Homo sapiens: one gene and its partners. The protein of the gene in region 1 purifies or fractionates together with the protein of each later gene. This does not show direct contact. Each region holds a gene or a part of one and is shown in the gene's direction. Other genes may lie near its edges. The genes, in order: RTKN, PLEKHA5, MAP3K21, AGAP1, KCTD3, LARP1 and NAV1.

What was found.
Region 2: the proteins of RTKN (region 1) and PLEKHA5 purify together in Homo sapiens (affinity purification with mass spectrometry, with the first as the bait; one large-scale study listed by BioGRID). This does not show direct contact.
Region 3: the proteins of RTKN (region 1) and MAP3K21 purify together in Homo sapiens (affinity purification with mass spectrometry, with the first as the bait; one large-scale study listed by BioGRID). This does not show direct contact.
Region 4: the proteins of RTKN (region 1) and AGAP1 purify together in Homo sapiens (affinity purification with mass spectrometry, with the first as the bait; one large-scale study listed by BioGRID). This does not show direct contact.
Region 5: the proteins of RTKN (region 1) and KCTD3 purify together in Homo sapiens (affinity purification with mass spectrometry, with the first as the bait; one large-scale study listed by BioGRID). This does not show direct contact.
Region 6: the proteins of RTKN (region 1) and LARP1 purify together in Homo sapiens (affinity purification with mass spectrometry, with the first as the bait; one large-scale study listed by BioGRID). This does not show direct contact.
Region 7: the proteins of RTKN (region 1) and NAV1 purify together in Homo sapiens (affinity purification with mass spectrometry, with the first as the bait; one large-scale study listed by BioGRID). This does not show direct contact.

The regions. Positions count from the first base shown.
Region 1 is NC_000002.12:74,431,938-74,435,437, reverse strand, and holds part of RTKN (rhotekin), read left to right. Parts: intron 1-2,771; coding exon 2,772-2,971; intron 2,972-3,500. UniProt on the Homo sapiens protein: Mediates Rho signaling to activate NF-kappa-B and may confer increased resistance to apoptosis to cells in gastric tumorigenesis. May play a novel role in the organization of septin structures.
Region 2 is NC_000012.12:19,346,233-19,349,732, forward strand, and holds part of PLEKHA5 (pleckstrin homology domain-containing family A member 5), read left to right. Parts: intron 1-761; coding exon 762-950; intron 951-2,166; coding exon 2,167-2,287; intron 2,288-3,500.
Region 3 is NC_000001.11:233,376,224-233,379,723, forward strand, and holds part of MAP3K21 (mitogen-activated protein kinase kinase kinase 21), read left to right. Parts: intron 1-206; coding exon 207-304; intron 305-2,707; coding exon 2,708-3,487; intron 3,488-3,500. UniProt on the Homo sapiens protein: Negative regulator of TLR4 signaling. Does not activate JNK1/MAPK8 pathway, p38/MAPK14, nor ERK2/MAPK1 pathways.
Region 4 is NC_000002.12:236,036,043-236,039,542, forward strand, and holds part of AGAP1 (arf-GAP with GTPase, ANK repeat and PH domain-containing protein 1), read left to right. Parts: intron 1-518; coding exon 519-673; intron 674-3,500. UniProt on the Homo sapiens protein: GTPase-activating protein for ARF1 and, to a lesser extent, ARF5. Directly and specifically regulates the adapter protein 3 (AP-3)-dependent trafficking of proteins in the endosomal-lysosomal system.
Region 5 is NC_000001.11:215,598,304-215,601,803, forward strand, and holds part of KCTD3 (BTB/POZ domain-containing protein KCTD3), read left to right. Parts: intron 1-3,500. UniProt on the Homo sapiens protein: Accessory subunit of potassium/sodium hyperpolarization-activated cyclic nucleotide-gated channel 3 (HCN3) up-regulating its cell-surface expression and current density without affecting its voltage dependence and kinetics.
Region 6 is NC_000005.10:154,800,377-154,803,876, forward strand, and holds part of LARP1 (la-related protein 1), read left to right. Parts: intron 1-1,630; coding exon 1,631-2,023; intron 2,024-2,913; coding exon 2,914-3,037; intron 3,038-3,163; coding exon 3,164-3,369; intron 3,370-3,500. UniProt on the Homo sapiens protein: RNA-binding protein that regulates the translation of specific target mRNA species downstream of the mTORC1 complex, in function of growth signals and nutrient availability.
Region 7 is NC_000001.11:201,811,627-201,815,126, forward strand, and holds part of NAV1 (neuron navigator 1), read left to right. Parts: coding exon 1-131; intron 132-276; coding exon 277-348; intron 349-838; coding exon 839-1,035; intron 1,036-1,513; coding exon 1,514-1,632; intron 1,633-3,500. UniProt on the Homo sapiens protein: May be involved in neuronal migration.

The DNA.
Region 1 (3,500 bases):
CAAAGTATAGCGTCATTAAAATAAGCATCCCTGCCATTAATGTATACCACATGCTGGGCACTGTGCTAAGTGCTTTAAGTTCCTGCCTCACAGAATTCTCACAGCCCTAGGACTATTTCCATTCCTGATTTACAGATGGGGAAACTGAGGCTTAGGGAGGTTGAGCAAATTGCCCATTGCTTTTTAAGAAGCAGGACCTCCAGGGCTCCTTTCTAAATGAATGTTCCTGAGAATCCTGGTGTCTCTTCCAGGGCCTCTCAGCTGGCCCTTATCCACAGTCCCTCATTCCTGGACCACCTACCTTCCCATCCCCATTCCTTGCCTCTGACCTCATCTCCCAAGCTCAGAGGGCCGGTAGGTGGTGATTCTCTTAATTTGGGGTGTATAGGTTTCTGTGCAGCGTCAGTGAACACTGTAGGTGGTATGCTCCTTGTCCACTGATCCCTTGCCAACTAGATGTCCCTGGCATCACTTGAGTCTGAGGGATAACTCTCATTTGCCTTTCCTTCTGTCCATTCCCATGAGTTGGTGGTTCTCAACCTGGGTGTACCTCAGAATCACTTGGGGAGTTTTCCAAAAGTACATATGCCCCACTCCTAGAGATTCTTATTCTGCAAATCTTAGGTAGGGCCTGATCATTTTTTTTTAAACTCCAAAGATCTAATATTTTTTAAAGGAAATACAATTTCCAGTAGTACAAAGGGTATATATAAAGTATCATTAGGCTGGGCGCAGTGGCTCAAGCCTGTAATCCCGCACTTTGGGAGGCCGAGGTGGGAGGATCACTTGAGGCCAGGAGTTCGAGACTAGTCTGGCCAACATGGCGAAACCCTGTCTCTACTAAGAATACAAAAGTTAGGCCAGGCATGGTGTCTCACACCTGCAATCCCAGCACTTTGGGAGGCCAAGGCGGGTGGATCACCTGAGGTCGGGAGTTTGAGACCAGCCTGGCCAACATGGTGCAACCCCGTCTCTACTAAAAATACAAAAATTAGCTGGGTGTGGTGGCTCACACCTGTAATCCCAGCTACTCCGGAGGCTAGGCAGAAGAATTGCTTGAACCTGGGAGGCGGAGTTTGCAGTGAGCCGAGATCATGCCACTTCACTCCAGCCTGGGCAACAGAGTAAGACTCGGTCTCAAAAAAAAAAAAAAAAAAGAATACAAAACTTACTCGGGCGTGGTGGCACATGCCTGTAATCTCAGCTACTCAGGAGGCTGAGGCACAAGAATCACTTGAACCTGGAAGGTGGAAGTTGCAGTGAGCTGAGATCGCGCCACTGTACTCCAGCTTGGGTGACAGAGTGAGACTCGGTCTCAAAAAAAAAAAAGTATCATAAATGTTTTCCATCCCTGGCTCCCAGGCCTACAATCACTAATATTTTATGCATAAACATGCATATCTATATCTATGTATATATATGCATGCATACATATATATATATCATGCACAAATGGTAGTATGTGCAATACTACCCTTCTTTTCTCACATCATTTATTTTGGAGATTGTTTCATATCTGCATACATGTGCATATCTCTTTCCTTAATGTCTGCAATACTACAGGGTACAGATGTACTGTTACTTATTTAACCAATGTCCTACTGAAGGGGTTTTAATTTTGGTGTTTAAAACAATGCCACAATGAGGCCGGGCGCGGTGGCTCACGCCTGTAATCCCAGCACTTTGGGAGGCCGAGGTGGGCGGATCACAAGGTCAGGAGATCGAGACCATCCCGGTTAACACTGTGAAACCCCGTCTCTACTAAAAATACAAAAAAACAATTAGCCGGATGTGGTGGCGGGCGCCTGTAGTCCCAGCTACTTGGGAGGCTGAGGCAGGAGAATGGCATGAACCCCAGGAGGTGGAGCTTGCAGTGAACTGAGATCGTACCACTGCACTCCAGCTTGGGCAACAGAGCGAGACTCCGTCTCAAAAAAAAAAAAAAATGCCGCACTGAATATTTTTGTATGTATGGCTTTACCTAGATATATGTGAAATTATATGTGTAAGATAAACTGCTAGGTATTGGATAGCTGAATTAAAGGATATATGAATTTGTAGTTTTCATAGATTTTTTTCCAAATTGCACTCAAAAGAGGCTGAAGGAATTTATACTTCCAACCATCAAATGCATGAGGGCATCTCTATTTTTCTTATTTGTTTTATATATATATATATATGTTTTTTTTTTTTTTGAGCCAGAGTCTTGCTCTGTCGTCCAGGCTGGGGTGCAGTGGTGCAGTCTCGGCTCACTGCAAGCTCCGCCTCCCGGGTTCATGCCATTCTCCTGCCTCAGCCTCCCAAGTAGCTGGGACTACAGGCGCCCGCCACCACGCCCTGCTAATTTTTTGTATTTTTAGTAGAGACGGGGTTTCACCGTGTTAGCCGGGATGGTCTCGATCTCCTGGCCTTGTGATCCGCCTGCCTCTGCCTCCCAAAGTGCTGGGATTACAGGCGTGAGCCACCGTGCCCGGCTGTTATATATTTTTTTAGAGGTGGGGTCTCACTATGTTGCCCAGGCTGGCCTTGATCTCCTAGGCTCAAGGGATCCTCCCACCTCAGCCTCCCTCACACACCACTGCACCTGGCTACAAAGCTTCTCTGGTTATTCGTGGGCAGCTGAGATTGAGACCCAATGCCTGCTCTTGAACTGCCTAAAACATTAGTTTCTTGTCAGTTTTACTGGCCACAGCCCACCTGGGGACTGGGGAGTGCTTTAGCCTGTCCACTGACTGACATTTCCTTCTCACCCTTCCCCCAACCCTGGCTAGGACACGGAGTTGCAGAGGAAGCTAGACCATGAGATCCGGATGAGGGAAGGGGCCTGTAAGCTGCTGGCAGCCTGCTCCCAGCGAGAGCAGGCTCTGGAGGCCACCAAGAGCCTGCTAGTGTGCAACAGCCGCATCCTCAGCTACATGGGCGAGCTGCAGCGGCGCAAGGAGGCGCAGGTGCTGGGGAAGACAAGCCGGCGGTGAGCAAGGGGGAGACGAGGCCTCGATGGAGGCAGGAGGCCTTCTGGGTGGTGGTGGTGCAGCATGTGCGTGTGTGGCATGTGGACCACCTTAAAGATGACTTCCCCATGAAGTCTTATCAGGGACCTGGGAGAGACCTTGGTGTTTTACCACCACTGTGTGTTGCCCAGAGGCGCATTTGTGAGTAGCCAGGGCAGGACTTAGAAAAGTCGGTGTGTCTGGTGAAAGGTAGCTGATCTGAAGGGTAGCAAGTAATGCAAAAGCACTAATTTGCTAAGCCCTGTCTGTGATCCAGTAAGACTGGCTATCTGGCTTTTGGAAAATTAATTTCCTCAACGCTGGTTCACAAAATCACCAATTTACCACATACTGACAATAGTTTGTTATATCTGGGGTTCACCTTCAGAGGCAGGGAGTGGGAAAGGAAATAAGAAACCACTTAAGGAAAGCCTACCCATTCAAACAAATTAGATTGTGCATTCTAAAAGGGCTCAGCTTCTGGATGTAAAATGTAAGCAACACTGACAT
Region 2 (3,500 bases), on another chromosome or scaffold:
GCGTAGCATAAAGAAATTACAACTACAAAGAGATACTGTCAACCTAACCAAAAGAATCTATTATTTTGAATTTCGTATAAAAACCAAAGAGGTAACTTTTTTTTTTCCTCTCTTAAAAATTGGGGGGCCAGGTGCAGTGGCTCATGCCTGTAATCCCAGCACTTTAGGAGGCCAAGGCAGGAGGATGTCTTGAGCCCAGGAGTTTGAGACCAGCCTGGTAAACATAGCAAGACCCCCATCTCTAGAAAACATTGAAAAATTAGACGGGCATGGTGTGCCTGTGGTCCCAGCTACTCGGGAGGCTGAGCCAGGAGGATCCCTTGAGCCCAGGAGTTCAAAGGTGCAGTGAGCTATGTATGATCAAATCACTGCACTATAGCGAGACCCCATCTCTACCAAATAAATAAATAAGATAAATTGTGAAAATATAAGAATAGGATTTTAAAATCAGTTCTTTCCTTCTAGTTTTAAAATGAAACCCAGTAATTAGTTTTAAATAGTAATCTCTTTCAATGTTGAGTTTCAGTGTGAAGCTAACCTATATGTTACAGGAAAGAATCAGATGTAATTATATGTTAAATTCCAATTATTGGCTATGATAAAAAATTTTTGATTTTACTTTTCATTATTAGACTTTTGGCTTGGCAGTGTCCCTTTTAGTATCTTAAAGTAAATTTAAGTTAATATACCATTGCAAAGAATTTAGATATGCTTAATTCAATCTGCTTATCTAAATAAGGTGACTGTTCTACAATCTTTAGGAAGAGGAAGTAGTCCCACCTCGTCCTCCACTTCCTCGGTCCTATGACTTTACAGAGCAGCCTCCCATAATCCCCCCTCTGCCCAGTGATAGCAGCTCCTTGCTCTGTTATAGCAGGGGCCCAGTTCATCTGCCTGAAGAAAAGAAGATGTATCAAGTTCAAGGATATCCAAGAAATGGATCTCACTGTGTAAGTGGCTGGAATAGCCACAGAATAATCAATCCTACATGTCCTCTCATTTTTGAAAATTAATTTATTTTACACTCAAACTTTTTTTTTATTATAACCTTTATAACCTCATTTTTGGCCAGCAGTTTTTAGTTTATATATGACTTTATCATTTGTGTCTTTCCTGTTTTGGTTTTGCTATTCTCATTTTTAATATTTTTATAATTTTAATATTTTATAATTTCATAGCATTTTTCATATTTTCATAAAGTGGTAACTTTTCCCATGATGAAGCAGCCGTATTTTAGATATACCATTTTAGGGTATTGGAGGCAAGATTATACCTTCAGATCAGAAAGAAGGGAGAAAGAAAAAGACCGTTACTAGGGATGGTAAAGGGGCTGGGATGTGGACATTTTGGTCTAGGAAAACTACTCAAAGATGTGGATGTTGCTAAGGAGAGATGTCACCCCTGAAAATGGGAAATACGTTTAGGGTTAAGCAAATAATGTAGGATATAATAAGCAAAGAGAAAAAGGAAATTAGAATTGAGCTAATTTGAGAACAACAAAATGTCTGTGACAGGAATTTTAGTGCTGGGATGGGCCTCACTTAGACTACCTTGTGAATGAAAATTTATTGAATTAATATAGTTATTTTTAGCCCTCAATTATTCCATCATAAAAATGTGACTTTGTTCCTAAGAGGAACAGAAATATTCTTTTTTTTTTTTTTTTTTTTGAGACAGGGTCTCACTCTTTCCCAGGCTGGAGTGCAGTAGAGCAATCTCAGCTCACTGCAAGCTCCGCCTCCCAGGTTCAAGTGATTCTCCTGCCTCAGCCTTCTGAATGGCTGGGATTATAGGCGCACACCACCATGCCCAGCTAATTTTTGTATTTTTAGTAGAGACAGGGTTTCACCATGTTGGCTGGGCTGGTCTCAAACTCCTGGCCTCAGGTGATACACCCACCTTGGCCTCCCAAAGTGCTGAGATTACAGGTGTGAGCCACTGCACCCGGCCAGAAATATTCTTAATATTAAAACGAAGTTTTGCCACTTAAAAATTTCTCAAATTTCTTCTTTCCACGTAATTGTGACATAGGTATTATTTGTGTTATATCCCAGATGGCTCACTAGGGCTACTAATGTTTAGAGTTTGATTTGTGTCTTTAGCAGTAAACATTTTAAAAGAAACTTTTAGCAGTTTTTTAGGGTAATTACATGTCTTCCTTTCAAGGGTCCAGATTATAGACTCTACAAGAGTGAACCAGAGTTAACAACAGTGGCAGAAGTTGATGAATCTAATGGAGAAGAAAAATCAGAACCTGTTTCAGAGATAGAAACTTCAGTTGTTAAAGGTCAGCATTTGTAATATGTTTTACCTCTTGGTTTTTGTTTTTGAAGACAATTTACTGCCAAAATAGTAGTAAATTCCATTTACATGTTGACTCATATATGAGTCCAACCCTTTATCTGAAACCTTTGGACTCTGATGAGTTTCTAAATTAAGAAATTTTCAGATATTAAAAGATAAAATGGCCCATAAATGATATATGTCATCTCAGCTAGGTATGAGGCAGCACCCTTTTTTTAACACTATTTCTACAATATTCATTCCAAGTGGCATAAATAAATGCTAAAAATAAAAGACATTAGCTGGGCATGGTGGCACGTGCCTGAATCCCAGTTACCCGGGAGGCTGAGGCAGGAGAATCACTGGAACCCAGGAGGTGCAGGCTGCAGTGAGCCGAGATCGCACCACTGCACTCCAGCCTGGGCAACAGAGCAAGACTTCGTCTCATAAATAAAAATAAAAGACATCACATCAGATTAGGTTTTACTAAGAAATAAGTTTATGTCAAACTTTAAAGTTTCCCATTTCCTGGGAGAGTTTTCTTTTTTTTTTTTTCTGTTTCTGGTGGTTGTTTTTGTTGTTGTTGTTGTTGTTGTTGTTGTTGTTTGTGATGTGTTGTTGTGTGTGAGGTCTCACTCTGTCACCTGAGCTGCTGTACTGGAGCAAACATGGCTCACTGTAGCCTCGACCTCCCAGACTCGGTGATCCTCTCACTTCAGCCTTCCAAGTAGCTGGGACTACAGGCACACACCACCATACCCAACTAATTTTTTAAGTATTTGTAGAGACAAGGTCTTGCCGTGTTGCCTAAGCTGGTCTTGAACTCTGGGGATCAAGCATTCCTTCCACCTCAGCCTCCCAAGGTGTTGGGATTACAAGCATGTGCCACCACACCTGGACAGGGTCTTTTCTGTGTGTGTGTTTAAAATTATGCATAAGGTATTAATGGCTGAAACAAATTTTCACACAATATCAACAAAGTAAATTCTAAAATAATATTTCTGTAATGTATACTCTGATTTTTTTCTTAATGCTGGTCATTTTTCTAGAAGGCAATTGCGTAAAGAAAAGAGTAGAGAGAGAACTATCCTAGATTAAAAAGATAGATAGGCCAGGGGTGGTGGCTAACGCCTGTAATCCCAGCACTTCAGGAGGCCGAGGTGGGCGGATCACCTGAGGTCAGGAGATCAACAACAACAGCAACAACAACAACAACC
Region 3 (3,500 bases), on another chromosome or scaffold:
CTATTATTTAGTTAAGCAGTTAGAATATTTCTGAGATTTTTCCTGTCTCACTTTCAGGTATTATTTGTACTTTGTCAGCCCTTCAAAACTGAGTACAAATGTGTTCTCTTTACTACCTTAAAAATATTGTTGGTCTGTATCCACCAAAACCTAATTGGTGTGTTGTGTGCTTCTATCTTATGAAAAGAAACATTTTTCTCTTGTAGGATAAGACCTCTCTCCGATGGCAACAGTCCTTGGTCAACTATCTTAATAAAAAATCAGAAAACCATGCCCTTGGCTTCATTGTTTGTGGACCAGCCAGGTAAATGTGTTTCAGGAGGTAGGATTTGCTTGAGCAGTCCTTGGCATCTGATTGTGCTGAAGCTTTGCTTTTACAGTCTTACGTGGTCATTAAAGTAGCAGAGGGGAGATTAGCAAGTAATGGCATTTCTTATAGCTTTACTTAAATTCAGAAGTTATTTTCCGTCAAGTATTTATGGCAGGAAGTAATTAGGCTTCACGTGGTTTTGGGAATTTGTAACTCTTCTTCCTTACCAGAAACATTATTATCACAATTAATTATGTAAAACCAAATCAATTTAGTATGGGAAATATTAGATGTAAAAATATAGACCCCCCTGAAAGTTCTGCTGAGATTAAGGGGTATGGCTTCTTGCTATAGTGCCACCTGTTGACATGAGGAAATCCAATGAAACAGGTTAACTATGAAAAACACAAAAACTAGCCGGCATGGTGGTGCTTGCTTGTAATCCCAGCTACTCAGGAGGCTGAGGCAAGAGAATCACTTGCACCTGGGAGCCAGAGGTGGCAGTGAGCCAAGATTGTGCCACTGCATGCCAGCCTGGACAATAGAGTGAATGAGACTCTATCTCTAGATAAATAAATAAATAAATAAATAAGAAAAATGACTCCTTGGAGAGTTTTACACTGGAATTTCTATTTAATTTAAATGAATCATAATGATTTACTTTCAATATTCTATATTTGTATTCAGTATTCAGTATTAAAAGATTGAAGAGATGGAAATCGTTGAAAAACTTCAAGCACGGTTACTAACACAGAAAATAAAATTGGTCTTTATACTTGACCATTTAGGCAGACTCTTTGGTACTTTGATCAAATTAAAGATGCCTTAGCAAGACACAATGTAAATGTATTGAATTTGTTATTGGTACTGTGCTCAATTTCACAAGCACCTTTGCACTCACTACCTGGGTTCAGCTTCTCCTTCTGAAGGTTCTCCTTTATGAAGGAAAAGGGAGCTTGGGTCAGCAACGTCAGGGAGTGGAAGGAAAAAGAGGGTACCCCAAACAAAAGGCACCACAGGGAAGAGCACAGGGTTCTTTGGAGAAAGAAAGCTGGCACCCCAAATTGTCTACATCAGCAGTCCCCAACCTTTATGGCACCAGAGACCAGTTTCATGGAAGACAGTTTTTCCATGGACCAGTGGGGTAGGGATGGTTTCAGGATGATCCAAGCGCATTACATTTGTTGTGCACTTTATTATTATTACATTGTAATTCATAATGAAATAATTCTACAACTCACCATAATGTAGAATCAGTGGGAGCCCTGAGCTTGTTTTCCTACAACTAGATGGTCCCATCTGGGAGTGATGGGAGACAGCAACAGATCATCAGATCCTAGATTCTCATAAGGAGCAACCTAGATCCCTTGTATGTGCAGTTCACAATGGGGTTCATGCTCCTATGAGAATCTAATGCTTCTGCTGAACTGACACAGGGCGGAGCTCAGGTGGTAATGTGAGCAATGGGCACTGGCTGTAAATGCAAAAGAAGCTTCACTCGCCCACCTGCTGCTCACTTCCTGCTGTGCAGCCTGGTTCCTAACAGGCCACGGTATCAGTCCATGGCCTGGGGTTCAGGGACCCCTGGTCTAGATCATCAAGCATGTTTAGGTATACTAGGATGTAGTGTTGGAAAAAATTAGAGATGTTATTTGGAAATCAGATTAATGAGTTTGTTGTTTAATTATGCGCTGTCACTTTTGTGATAAGAATGTTAGCTTCCTCTTAAGCGGGTATAATTTGTAACCTTTGGGATTCTGTAACCTCTTGGGAGAATCTTCTATTTTAATGGTCCCCAAACTTCAGTAAAGGCTAGCTGAAACACAGACTGCTGGACTCCACTCTTCAGAATTTCTGATTCCATAGTCTGGGGTGGGCCAATAATTTACATTTCTACAAATTCCCAGGGGATGCAGATGCTGCCAGTCCAGGCCACACACTTTGAGAACTGCTGATCTGCTACAGAACAGTTAGTTTATACACAGGAAAGCTGTAGATAATGGAGCCTGATGCATGTATTTAGGTGAAGTGAGGAAAAGAGCACATTTGGTGACATATTTAGTGATTTTGTGCCTATGGTTGTGCGTTTTTGTGTTTTGATGACTGTTTCTACAATAGTGTCTATTATTGAAGCTGATGAAGAACAGCTTCCCGAAGCATAGGAAACAGCAGATGGCTAGCTTGCTGGTTCATCTGCAGGGAACCTGAAGTTGTAGGGCCCTAGACTCTTGCTCCATGGAGCCCTCCTGGATGAATCATTTGCAGAAATGAAAAGGGCTGCATGTGTTTTGATTTAAAATATGTATTTATTATATTTTAGCTTTATTTTACAATCTTGTTTAAATGACTTTTGCTGTAAAATGATACTACAGTGTATGTACTTATACCTTTATTTAGGGTCCTGTGAAGAGCCAAAACTTTCCCCTGATGGATTAGAACACAGAAAACCAAAACAAATAAAATTGCCTAGTCAGGCCTACATTGATCTACCTCTTGGGAAAGATGCTCAGAGAGAGAATCCTGCAGAAGCTGAAAGCTGGGAGGAGGCAGCCTCTGCGAATGCTGCCACAGTCTCCATTGAGATGACTCCTACGAATAGTCTGAGTAGATCCCCCCAGAGAAAGAAAACGGAGTCAGCTCTGTATGGGTGCACCGTCCTTCTGGCATCGGTGGCTCTGGGACTGGACCTCAGAGAGCTTCATAAAGCACAGGCTGCTGAAGAACCGTTGCCCAAGGAAGAGAAGAAGAAACGAGAGGGAATCTTCCAGCGGGCTTCCAAGTCCCGCAGAAGCGCCAGTCCTCCCACAAGCCTGCCATCCACCTGTGGGGAGGCCAGCAGCCCACCCTCCCTGCCACTGTCAAGTGCCCTGGGCATCCTCTCCACACCTTCTTTCTCCACAAAGTGCCTGCTGCAGATGGACAGTGAAGATCCACTGGTGGACAGTGCACCTGTCACTTGTGACTCTGAGATGCTCACTCCGGATTTTTGTCCCACTGCCCCAGGAAGTGGTCGTGAGCCAGCCCTCATGCCAAGACTTGACACTGATTGTAGTGTATCAAGAAACTTGCCGTCTTCCTTCCTACAGCAGACATGTGGGAATGTACCTTACTGTGCTTCTTCAAAACATAGACCGTCACATCACAGACGGACCATGTCTGATGGAAATCCGACCCCAAGTAGGTTGCATTA
Region 4 (3,500 bases), about 160 Mb from region 1:
TCCCTGTCTGAAAACGTGGGAATTGATGCCTCTCCCACGGTAACAGGTCCTCTGCCATAAAAGAACAGAACCTTCCCGCGTTCCTCTATCCATGGAGTGTCTGTGGATCTACGCGAGTGCTTAGATAGAAATTAACCCTGCAGCCGGAGATTAGCGGCCCTAACTTAATTTTCGTCCCACAGATAAGGATGGTCAGCCATGAGTTACATGGTTATTCTCCTAAGTTGCTTTGTGTGTGCACCACACAGAGACGCTGACATCACTCGTTGATTTCATCTGGCCTTGTGCCCTGAGCCTTGATTGAAACCTGGCTAAGTCATGCTGGCCTTAGGAACCACATCTGGACTGTTGGGAGGTGCATGGATTCAAATCTCCGCCGCCGTGGTTGTCCAGTGCCGTGCGCCTCACCGGTCCATGCAGGGGCAGCTGAACCCAGAGGCGCTTCTGTGACAGAGGGCCCGCAGGGGGACTGCTGTCTCATAAAAGCTAAACTCTTCATCCCACACTCTGTGTTTCAGAACAAGAAGAAAATTTTGAGTTTATCATTGTGTCCCTCACTGGCCAAACATGGCACTTTGAAGCCACGACGTATGAGGAGCGGGACGCCTGGGTCCAAGCCATCGAGAGCCAGATCCTGGCCAGCCTGCAGTCGTGCGAGAGCAGCAAGAACAAGGTGAGGCCCCTGGCTGCCCAAAACCAAGGCTGGGGCTGCTCAGGGGGAGTGCGGGCCCCAAGTAATGCCCCAGGGAGGAGAAAATAGAGGACCAGTGTGAATGACAGGACCTAGCTATTCTTTATGAGCAGAAAGCTCAATAACTAAAACGATCAGAAGCACTTTGTGTCTATACCATCATACATGAGTATTCCAGCCTGACCGTGCTTCCCTGGCAGGAGAGCCAAGGTTAAATCTTCAGTCTGTCAGCCAATCCCAGAGGGAATCTTTTGGACTCTTGTGGCTTCTGGGTCCACATTTATTTTTGTTTTGGACAGAATACACTCAGAAAAAAAGAGAGACGGACTTAAAAGATGCACTGTTCAAGTAAATGCCCAGAATTCAAATCGACATCAAGTTGGAAAACCGTCTCTTGTTAGGGACATAAATGAAAAGTAGATGGGTCTGTATGAGCGTGCAGGGAGTTTGGGAAGATAAAGTTTCTATTATCTAAACTGATAAAGCCTGGTATGTGTTTTATTCAATAATTAGAGGTGGTGGTGCAGCTCTTTTAGAATTTGTCCAGCAGGTTTTCTGGTTCTCACCAGAAAACGCCACCCCCAAATGTTTCTATATTAAAAAAATAATGAGAGGCAATTTGTTTTTTGTAGTTACTTAGCTAGAAAAGGAAAAATATTTTAACCTGTATTTTTTTTTCCTTTGGAGAGAGTCTATCTCTGTCACCTAGGCTGGAGTACAGTGGCACAATCTTAGCTCACTGCAACCTCCAAGCTCAAGCAATCCTCCCACCTCAGCCTCCTGAGTTGCTGGGACTACAGGCCTGGCTTGCTTGCTTATTTATTTGTATATTTATTTATGTAATATATATTATTTGTGGAGGTGGGGTTTCATCACGTTGCCCAGGCTGGTCTCAAACTCTTGGGCTCAAGCGATCCACCTGCCTCAGACACCCAGAGTCCTGGGATTACAGGCATGAGCTACCACGCCTGGCTTAACCTGTGTTCTCTAGGCTACTGCCCAGTGATGTTCCTTCTACAAAAGTCCTTTTTCCCATCAAGGATTGCTTCAGTTTCATTATTTTAATGTTTGTTTGTCTTTAACCTCTTTGCTGGGACGTCTTAGACTTTTGGAGAGCATTTTGATATTTCAGACTATGATCAACTAGAAACTAAGAGAAAGGATGTTACCCACCGACCTGCAGTTTCATTTGTAACCATTTAAAGAAATTTCTGCCTATGATTTATGTGCAGCTTTGTCACTAAAAAGAGAGTCTGTCTTTCAGAAAGATGAAGTGTCTTATTTTATTACCCTCTTTAACCAGGGTAAACCAGACCACAGTCATTATTATTATAATGTAATTTGCTTCCCTTTTTAAAAGATGTTTTATACTCAAGGTGGGGAGAACCACTGCCTTTCATTCCATACACCCTGGCTTTACTGGGTCACGTCCACATGCATCCATGATGTGCCTCCTGAAACGAGCACAGGGTGCTTTGGGGCCACCTCAATGGGAAGCAACAGCACACAGCATCCTCCAAGCGTGGGCAGCTCATTCTGAGAAGGAAGGCAGGGAGGCAGGCTGTGTTACCGAACAGAGAGGCACAGGTTCCTGCCTTCATGGAGAAATCACAGTCTTTCACGGCAGACTCTGAGCCCCTGCCACCTCGACCTAATTCAGGAAGATCTGGGATGGTGGCAGCCTTTCCCATTCCACACCTTGCCAGGCTCCTCCTGACTCGTGTCTCAGCTCATGCACACACCAGCCTTAGAATGCTGCCCTCGGCCCTCACTAGGCGCCTGTTCTCCAGGGAATTGCTCCCTTGGGAGGAGGACGCGTTGAGCAACCAAAGGTGGCCGACTCAGAGCTGGTCATCGTGGGCATTGGTTGAACAGGTGTGAGGGCATAAAACATGGAAATACTGTCCACAAGGAGTAGCGGGAGGCAAAAATACAGGCCCAGTTGACCACCAGCTTTATAGTATTTTACCTGCCAGTGGATAATTGAGAGCTGATACAGGTATAGGCATAGCTAGACAGACAGACAAACCAACCAACCACAGAAATGATACAGGTACACAGAGAGACAGAGGCACATCCCTTTGTATGTGTGTGTGTGTGTGTGTGTGTGTGTGTGATCACACACTTGCATTCCAGATGCCAGTGTAAACTGTTTAAACATATTTTGAATACTTGGGTATCTAACCAAAGGGAATTAAAATTCAATAACGCATGATGCTAATTAGACAGTAGTGATTAATACATTATAATTTATTATGTAGCAAGTAATATATTATTTCACATCAATTTGATGAGATGTTTCAATTTATGAAGAATTCTTACGCAAAAATCAAGCTTATTGTAACTGTCCTCTGAAATTGATCAATTTTTGCTTTAACCATAATATTAAATGCATACTTAATAAATAAGCCTCAAAAACACTACATATCAGCCAGACACGATGGTTCACGCCTGTACTCCTAGTGCTTTGGGAGGCTAAGGTGGGAGGATCACTTGAGGCAAGGAGTTCGAGACCAGCCTGGCCAACATAGGGAGACCATTGTCTCTACAAAAAAATTTTTAAATAGCCAGGTGCATGGTTCACACCTGTAGTTCCAGCTACTCAGGAGGCTGAGGTGGGAGGACCACTTGAGCCCAGGAGATGGAGGCTGCAGTGAGCTATGATTGCACTACTCCAGCCTGGGCAACAGAGCAAGACCCTCTCTCTAGGTGGGGAAAAAGGTACATATCCAGTACATATCCTTTCACTTAGAACTTCTACTTCCAGGAATCTATTCTTAGTAAATAATCATGAGTGTGTACCAAGACT
Region 5 (3,500 bases), on another chromosome or scaffold:
GGAGATGCAAGAGGAAACCATTAGAAATTGAAACCAACATATTCAAATTAGGAGTGAATTGAAGCACAAAGACTTGCCTTTGTTCTATGAGAACTCCAATTTGAGAAACTGATCTAGGACTATTGACATTTCTAGATACAGATATGACACCAGTTAGAACACTTTCTCAGAAGAGAGCACACAAGAATCCTGTAGAAAGAGTAATTTCTGCTAAAATAACCTCCCAAAACTTATAAACTTCACATGGAAACAAATAACGAAAAGTCATTAAACAAGAAAAAATTTGCAATCCCCAAATTGGAAATAATGGAACAATTAGAAAGCTGCTGTATTGAAGGAATAGGACAAATCAGAAAATGGAGGGAAATAAAATACTGAAAATTAAAAGGTCATTGAAAAAAAATTTTTAATTTTATTTAATGGTTAAATAGAAGCGCAGCTAAAAGAAAATTAGTAAATTGACAGACACGTCTGAGAAAATCATTTCCAGTTGAGCCAAGAGTGAGATAGAAAATATGAAAAAGAAGGAAAAAGTGAGAAAGCATTTCAGATAGGAACAGACTAGAGGAGCCATATTGAAAAAGATAACAACTGCTAACATTTTGGAGAAATGAAAATGGGCATGAATTTATTGATTAAAGAAATGTACCAAGTCTTGGCAGCCTGAATGTTTAAATGTGCTATAATAAAAGATAAATTATGATAAAAAGTATTCATAGAATAGTGACAGTTTGCCTGTCATTAGACTTTGATCAGATTTCTCATCACCAGTAGTAGACACCAGAAGACGACAACGGGCATTCTCCAAATGGTAGAGAAAGTAACTTTCAGCCTAGGTTTTCATACACAGCAAAACTATCATTCAAACCTGAATGAGAAGGGTTTTTTTTCAGAGAGAATTTTTGAAAGGACTACTAAAGAAAAATGCCTTTTGAGAAGAACGTTATATTTGAAGGGGAAGAAATGGAATGCATTAAGCAGTGATTAGGAAAGATGTTGGTAAATACGATGGTAAATTTAGATAAGTGATTATTTAAAAAGTAATGGACGAAGGTTAAAACATCCTGTAAAAAATAATGATAAGTTTACAGGTATAGAGATTGTAGTTAAAAGATTCTAGGGGCCTTATATGGGAAGATAGACTGGTATTTTAAAACTGTAAATTTAAATTTACATGTAGAAATTAGTGGTAATCACTGTGTGCTACCTTATAAGAGAAAAATCCACTTCCATTTTATATTTGTGACCACATGACTGAACCATGCATACTAATCAGTATGGTTTCTTGGATTCTTGCCATGAAGTTGTTAGGACGAAGAAGAGGAGGCCACACAGTGGCTGCTTCCTTGCTTGTGCTGGGAGAGAAGAACTCAGCAGTTGTAACTCACTGTAACTCTGCTTATCCTCTGCTTTCTCTGTTTTCCCGTATGGAGGGGTAGACATGGAAAGAAAGGCAGATCATGATTAAAGGTTACAGAAGGAGAAGTAGCAAGGCTTTAATCCTAGAGCCCATCCTCCCAGAGAATAAATGGTAAAAATGTTTGCCTTTGTGCCTTGGGAAGCGCTAGGCTCCTGCTGCTCTTTCATTGAAAAAAAAAAAAAAAAAAGAATGTATCCAAAGGGAGAAGAATCTCATGGCCTTATCTGTCCCCATTTTCCTGCCATGAAGAATCTGGGGCAGGAGTTGAAGCCCTTTCCTTTAGTGCTAGAACTAAAATGATTTAGCTAACTTGAGTAAGAAAATTGGTTAGTGGTGTGTAAAGCAGTCTCCCCTCCATCCTTTAGACATCTTTACTGATATCACTGAAAAGTACTCAATGTTTTCCTGGTATAAAATGTTTTGGCATTGGCTTTAATTAAAAGCCTGACCTCAGGATAGGGCATGATGATTGAGTTCTTTGAGATATTTCTTGTGTAACTCATAACTGCATGACATTGAGAGGGTACAGAAATTAGGATTATATACAGGAAGAGCTTAGAGGAATGATTATTTCCAAGTTTTAGTTATTTCTGTTTTTAATTAGAATGAACCTAGATTCTGTGCTTTTTTTACTTGCTCTTCAGATATTCCCTTTCCCCTTGCCCTACCTAACTCATAGTTGACTTCAGTCTTCAAGCTTCACTTCCTCTGTGAACCTTCCTTGATCTTTGCTCTTCACCCACCAGCACTGAGATGGCAGTTCTTCCCCTCTCTCCTGTGATTGTATTGTAGTCTATTTTAGTGCCTGTCACACTATAATTGTCTGTTATTTTTCTTTCTCACAAGTTACCAGCTCCTAGAGAGCAAGGGGATACCTCACATCCCTTATCTCTAGTTCATTGTTTGTTTTCTTGGATAATATGTGGTACATAAAAAGTACTTAAATGTTAAGCAGATAATGTTTAGATTTTAACTTTTCAAATGAAAGCCAGGTATAGTATATGAAAAGTAAAAGTCCCTTAACATTTTTAACTTTTAAATTATTGGAAATCTTTTAGACTTGTATGCAAAACTTGGTGTCTTAGTAATTCAAATGTCATCTGTGAAGAAGCTTAACAGGCTTGTCTGGCCTGGCTGTAAACAGGGAAGATTCATTTTGATGAATAGTAGAATATCACTCTAGTAAAATAGTATTGCAACTATCCTAGCAAACACATTTTTTTTTTTTTTTGGATACCAAGTCTCACTCTGTTGCCCAGGCTGGAGTGCAGTGGCACAATCCCCGCTCACCGCAACCTCTGCCTCCCAGGTTCGAGCAATTCTCCTGCCTCAGCCTCCCGAGCAGCCGGGATTACTGGCATGCGCCACTACGCCCAGCTAATTTTGTATATTTAGTAGAGACAGGGTTTCACCGTGTTAGCTAGGCTGATTTCGAATTCCTGACCTCTGGTGATCTGCCTGCCTCGGCAGGTTTCTTTTAGCACAAATATGGGAAGGTATTAATTTGTAAACTAGATTGATTTTCCTGGAAAAACTAATTTTTTTATTCCTATACTTTAAAAAAATAAATACAAATGAGACTTTGTTTCCCTTGCCATTTCCTAGAAAAGAAGTAACCTTTAGCAAGGAGAATGAAAAATAGAGAATACCACCTTTTCAGAGAAATAATAAATTATCAAGGGAGCAAGTACTTTCTGGAAATCAGTTGCTTTGTTTACTAGTTCTGATTCTGTCACTTGCTTACTGTGTAACTTTGGACAGGTCATTTAATCTCTTGTATGAGAAAGGGAAAAGAGAGGGACCTGGTCAGACTCGGCCTTCCAGTTCTAGTGGGCTGCAATCTAGTGATCACATGCAAAAAAAGAGGAGACAACCAATCGAAATTGAGAAAGGAAAGTACTGCTGTGGGAAATACAATTTAAAAAAAATATTTTGAAGGAAGTATATTGATGGTTCTCCTCTGTAGCATGTTTGTGTATATGTGTGTGCACGCGTGCACCTAAAGAAAGTTTATTTCCTAAGCCCTACTAAAATTGGATATTGGTTGCCTCTTTACCAGAAGAATCAAAGTTTTGAGGAA
Region 6 (3,500 bases), on another chromosome or scaffold:
CGTTTTTGGTGTCTTTTCCCTGAGTATGTCCCCACTATCATGTATGTAAGCCCCTTAGGTCCTCAGAAGAAGGAAGGGAGAGGGAGCAGATGCATGGCCCAAATATGGAGTTAGTCTACACAAGTCTGCTGCACTAATGGCAAGGTGACCTTGGGAAGCCTGTTCATACCTCAAGGCTTCAGTTTCTCCATCTGCAGATGAAAGGAAGGAGACATTAGAATATTCTAGAAATAGTTTATATATATAAACAGATGAAGTTCACTGTTAAAGAAGTATTGCAATCTCTAACTAAAATTACTACTTCCTTTTTAAGTGCTGAATTTTTCTCCACATACCTGCTCACTGTCACCCACTTTGGAGACCTCTGGCCTGGGGCTTGTGAGGAGACTGCAGAATTGACCTTGAACTTTGGGTCTATGGAATTCTATACTCCCTTATCTATTTTCCCACAGTGATTACCTCTCATCTCCTTTCTCTTGCCTGCCTGTTCATACACAGAATTCCCCACAGTTGTGGCTTCAGCCCTCAAAAAGTGTTGGAGATCCAGCCAGAGACATGAGGAGAAAGGTAGTAAGTAGATGAGGGTTTTACAAAGTCCAGGCCTACAAAGTTTTGTTTGAAACAGGGGTCAGACTTAGCTCCCATTCCAGAATTAGAGCCCCTACTCTGACCTGGTCTATCTTAAACCTTAAAAAAAGATAGGTTTAGAGTTTATGTGCTCTTGGCACAGCAGGGAATCTACTTTTGAATAAATACTGTGGGTTTAGACAAATGCTTCTCTCTCAGCGTCTCATATTCAGTCTATCAAAACAAATAGTTTTTCTTTGCTGAAGGCACCGTGTTTTCTCTTGCCTTTGGAACAATGGTATTCTTTCTGCCTAGTCTGTCCCTATCTTCATCTGGCTTACTTATGTTCATCCTGTGGTAGTCACTTCTTGAAGGAGGCCTTCCGTAACCATTCTTAGTCACAGTTGACTAAGCTCCTTTAACTGTGTGCATCCACAAACCTGCTTATAGCCTTTACCATACCACAATGCAGTTGGCTGTTTGGTTGACTTTCTCCCATTGAGCTCCCTAAGTAACAGGGACCTTGTCTTATTCTGCTTTTAGGTTTTTCATACAGAGCTTAGGACTAATGGGTACTCCCTCATTTATTATATAATTGAACATCTGGTATTACCAGATCCCCGTCTAGGTACTGAGTATATAATGGAAAGCAAGGCAGCTGTGGATCATGGAGCTTCCAGTTTATTGGGAGATGTTGAATAGATGGATAAGTGGATGAATCAACCTGCTGAACTTCTGTGTGTCCACTCCTAAGCTAGGTGCTATGTAGGATATAAAGGTAAATGAGAGCACAGTTCCTGCCTATAGAGAAGTCATCATCAGTTGTTTGTGCATGACTGTGATATGAGCTGTGAGTGGAGGAACCTGGACTTCTATGAAACATCCTTTCTCATAGTCATAAAGCTGACTCCCAGGATGACGCTTGTGACCTGCTGGTGTTACCAGGGTCATAGTTGAACAGTCTTATGTTGAGAGGCTGGAGCTTCCCTCTCATGGTATAGCTACAGAATCTGGGCCAAGGATCTCTGGTGATTCCTTTTCCCCTTCGTCTGTCCTATTTTAGAAGTCAGAGGAGTCCAGATTTTCCCACCTGACCTCTCTGCCTCAGCAGCTGCCTTCCCAGCAGCTGATGTCCAAGGATCAGGATGAGCAAGAGGAACTGGATTTTCTGTTTGACGAGGAGATGGAGCAGATGGATGGGCGGAAGAACACCTTCACTGCCTGGTCTGATGAGGAATCTGACTATGAGATTGATGACAGGGATGTCAACAAGATCCTCATTGTCACCCAGACACCACATTACATGCGCCGGCACCCAGGGGGGGACCGCACAGGCAACCACACCTCGCGTGCCAAGATGAGCGCCGAACTGGCCAAGGTCATTAATGATGGCCTCTTCTACTATGAGCAGGACCTGTGGGCTGAAAAGTTTGAACCTGAGTATTCCCAGATCAAGGTGAGGCTTGGACATAGCAGTGAGTGTGGAGCCTGGTGTGCCTGTATTGTACGGAGAAGAGGAAGCCTGATTAGCTGTGCAATTTTAGGCAGGTCCTTATAATTCAGAGTCTCAGGATTTTTATATATGGGAAGGGGATGATGACTGACATCTAGCTTGGGCATTAGGAGTGAGGGGTGATGTGTAAACACTGCAAACTCTTCAGGTGAGGCGGTGGTGATTATTATCCTATCTGCGGATCCATAGTTAATATTCTGACAGTTGGCTAGACACTTTTGTGGGGAACAGAAAAAGGGTTAGATTGTTATTTCTAGTCTTAAATATTTAGGCATCTAAAAATTTAGAAGCCTTTTAAGAAGCTTGTGTTGAGTATGGAAAATGGAGAAAAGATAAGTCTTTTGAAAAATTGCTGCTGCCTGGAAATAGTCAAAACATCTCTGTTGTGGGATTTTAGAGTGGGTATGTTTGGTGGTAGGTTGTCCTAGGGTGAGCCTTTGTAATAAGTAGCAGTGTGTTTCCTGGAAGTAAGGAGGAAGGAGAGTTGCCCAGCCACTGTGTGATAAGGCAGTAGCAGAAAGAGAGATGGGGAAACACTGGAGCTTTCAGGGGGGAGTGTGTAGTGAGTTCCTGAGGAGCTACTGTCAGCCTGATCTCAGTCTTACTACAGGGAGGGCAGGGCAAGCACTGTCTTCTTCTGGGCTAGCACACTTGTGCCAAGGTAACTGGGGTGAGGAATGGTGACTGGGCAGCTGAGAGCCTGGGGACCAGAATTCCACGTATGTCGACGTGGGAGCTGCCCTCTCCAACTTCCTGCCAGTCTTGATTCCTTAAACAGGCTAGAGCAGCCTGCTTACTTACATCTTTCCCCACTCATCTCATGACCTCTGCAGCAAGAAGTCGAGAACTTCAAAAAGGTCAATATGATCAGCCGGGAGCAGTTTGACACACTGACCCCTGAGCCCCCTGTGGATCCCAACCAGGAAGTTCCTCCTGGGCCACCTCGGTTCCAGCAAGGTGAGAAGCAGACACCTGAGATCCTGACATGGGTGAGAGGATCTAGGGCCCTTGGACTGGGGGCTATCCTGGGGTGGATGCCACAGGCCTTTCCCTGCTTCCTGACTCCTCTCTCTGCCTCTGCAGTTCCTACGGATGCCCTGGCCAACAAGTTGTTTGGTGCTCCTGAGCCCTCCACCATCGCCCGCTCTCTACCAACCACTGTCCCAGAGTCACCAAACTACCGCAACACCAGGACCCCTCGCACTCCCCGGACACCACAGCTCAAAGACTCAAGCCAGACATCACGGTTTTACCCAGTGGTGAAAGAAGGACGGACACTGGATGCCAAGGTGAGGCATTCCTGTCGGGCTGCTCAGAGTCTTGGGTCTACTTCATTGCATTCCAGTGCTTTGCTTCTCTCCCTTGCCTTGTCTGAGCTAAGGAAGTGCTAAATCCTTCACCTGCTCTGTGTTCTGAGGCT
Region 7 (3,500 bases), on another chromosome or scaffold:
CTAGCCAACCAGATAGACCGGGAAACAGGAATTGGGGATGTGCCCCTGGTGATTCTATTGGATGACCTGAGTGAAGCAGGCTCCATCAGTGAGTTGGTCAATGGGGCCCTCACCTGCAAGTATCATAAATGGTAAGTAAGCTGGGATCAAGACAAAATTCATCGAAGTGGGAGGAGGGAGAACCCAGTCCAGGACAACCTATGAGTTGTGTGCATGTGGCAGAAAGCAAGTGTGAAGGCAAGTCTAAGTGAATCTTTTTCCCCTTTCTCCCTACAGTCCCTATATTATAGGTACCACCAATCAGCCTGTAAAAATGACACCCAACCATGGCTTGCACTTGAGCTTCAGGTAAGACCTCTAGCTCTGGATGAACCTTCTGACCCTACCCAAGAGTCTTCAATCCTGGACTCTGGCCAGGAGGCAGTAGATAGGAGAAGGAAAGAGAAGTATCCAGAGCTTTTTGGGCTGGAAATAGAAAGTAGATGTATTTGTCATGTCAGTTACAAGGTGGAGGAGGACACTTGAGGAGAGAAAAGGCCTGCTAAGCTAAGAGAGAGCCAGGTAGGTTGCTCTAAGCAGAATTAGGATTCTCTGCCCGCACACGCTGATCTGGGTCAGTGATGTCAGAAGGTTATCCGAAGAGGGCTACCAATTTGAGAATCAGCTCTACCACCCCAGGGCTGCTGCTCTGAGTTCCGATGTCCCCACTATTACTTGAAAAGAAACCAAGTAGGCATTAGTGAGAAGCAGGCAGAAGGAGGGACAGACTGGCAGGGGCTGAACCCTGACAATGTCCCCATTGCCACTCTGACCCCACTTTCCCCATCCTTGGTGGCAGGATGTTGACCTTCTCCAACAACGTGGAGCCAGCCAATGGCTTCCTGGTTCGTTACCTGAGGAGGAAGCTGGTAGAGTCAGACAGCGACATCAATGCCAACAAGGAAGAGCTGCTTCGGGTGCTCGACTGGGTACCCAAGCTGTGGTATCATCTCCACACCTTCCTTGAGAAGCACAGCACCTCAGACTTCCTCATCGGTACTGGGGTCCAGCTTCCCCCGGGGGTCAGGAGGTGGCTTCCCTTTTCCACTGTACCACCTGGAGGGATGCTCCCTTCTCTTCCTGGAGTCTTCGGCATGTAAAGGAGCTGCAAGCCTTGTGGCTTCAGACTTAGAACCACTTAACGAGCCTTCCCAACACAGTTAGCACCACTTCAATCACCAGAAAGCTAACCCCTCTCCTTGTTTTTTTCCCACAATTAACAGAAAAAAGGAGGCACATATGTAGGAAGGAATTAAACAGCTTTCCTCACTCCCTTATCTCACTTCTACCTTGTGAAGCAGGACTTATGAGATTGCCATCTAGGCAGTCAGCACCCACTAGTCTTGACAACTCTAAATTTCCTTTAATCCTTTGACTGTCAGACCCCTCTGCCTGGTACTAAGGAGTAAAAGAGGCACACAACCGGGAAGATCTAGGTTCCCAGCCATCTTCATGGCCCCATCCTCTTCCCTAGGCCCTTGCTTCTTTCTGTCGTGTCCCATTGGCATTGAGGACTTCCGGACCTGGTTCATTGACCTGTGGAACAACTCTATCATTCCCTATCTACAGGAAGGAGCCAAGGATGGGATAAAGGTGAGCCCTACCCCCTTCACTCAAACCCTAAGATCAGGCTGTCCTACCTAACAAAGTAGGAATGTTTCTTTAATGTTAGGCATGGGACTACTAGGATTAGTTAGGTTCTCTTTCTAACAGGTGGAGCAAGGCACTGGGTAGACTAAGCTGCTTTCCTGCCTCCAGCTGCCATTCAGCAAATGGTACAATGACCACTGCCTCTGGGGCCATCTCTCCAGTCCTAGGCCTTCTGGCTCTAAGCCCAATTTAAACCACTCTCTAGGGGTCAGAGCAAACAGAAAAATAATTGAGCTAAGAAGTAAGTAAAACCCTAATTAAAACAAACAAACAAACAAACAAAACCTTAGCTACTTACTACTAATAAGTATGTTATATTAACCAAGTTACTTGACCTTTTTAAATACCCTCATATGTAAAAAAAAAAAGGAGACATCACCTTCTGCTCTACCTAAATCACTGGAGTCTTTTGAAGACAAAATGAAATATGTGAAAAGATTTTTAAAAGTTAGAATAAGGAGACCGGGCGTGGTGGGTCATGCCTGTAATCCCAGCACTGTGGGAGGCCGAGGCGGGCAGATCACCAGGTCAGGAGATCAGGACCATCCTGGCTAACATGGTGAAATCCCCTTTCTACTAAAAATACAAAAAATTAGCCAGACGTGGTGGTGGGCGCCTGCAGTCCCAGCTACTTGGAAGGCTGAGGCAGGAGAATGGCGTGAACTCGGGAGGCAAGAGCTTGCAGTGAGCTGAGATCACGCCACTGTACTCCAGTCTGGGCAACAGAGCGAGACTCTGTCACAAAAACAAAAACAAACAAACAAACAAAAAAACTTAAAATAAGGCTGGGCCTGGTAGCTCTCGCCTGTAATCCCAGCATTTTAGAAGGCTGAGGCGAGAGGACTACTTGAGCCCAGGAGCTTGGGCAACATGGGAGACCCTGTCTATACAAAAAATAAAAAAAATCAGCCAGGCATGGTGGTGCACACCTGTAGTCCCAGCTACTCTGGAGGGTGAGGCCAGAAGATCACTTGAGGCCAGGATATACAGGCTACAGTGAGCCATGTTCTCACCACTACACTCCAGCCTGGGCAACAGAGTGAGAACCTGTCTCAAAAAAAAAAACAATTAAAATTAAAAGTTAGAATAAAAACTTAGTGCAAAAGGAACATGTCATTTTCTTAAAACCACCTCAGTTTTCTTACCTGTAAATTAGGGTATGATGATCACTAAAGTCCATTCCAGCACTAATAAACTGTGATGTAATGGCTAGACCCATGGGTCATATATTATCTGTAAAAGTAACTTGTTATTGAGATAGATATCTCCTGGTGATATAGTAAATTTCTAAAGATGCTGTCAGACTGATGCCAGAAATCATTATTTCATTTATAAATTATATTATTTTAAGGAAATGTTGCATTATTATTAGTAGCTTTTCAATTTAAAAGCATTTTCACACAGATAGTATTTGTTTTCAAGAAAGTAAAAAACAAAAAAAAAGCCGGGTGCGGTGGCTCACGCCTGTAATCCCAGCACTTTGGGAGGCCAAGGCAGGCGGATCACAAGGTCAGGAGATCGAGACCGTCGTGGCTAACACAGTGAAACCCCGTCTCTACTAAAAATACAAAAAATTAGCTAGATGTGGTGGTGGGCACCTGTAGTCCCAGCTACTCGGGAGGCTGAGGCAGAAGAATGGCGTGAACCTGGGAGGTGGAGCTTGCAGTGAGCCGAGATCACCGCCACTGCACTCCAGCCTGGGTGACAGAGGGAGACTCTGTCTCAAAAAAAAAAAAAAAAAGTTAAAAAAAAAAAATTAAGCATTATGACTAAAGCGGAAACATTTCCTACTTGAAAAATGAAATTGTAGG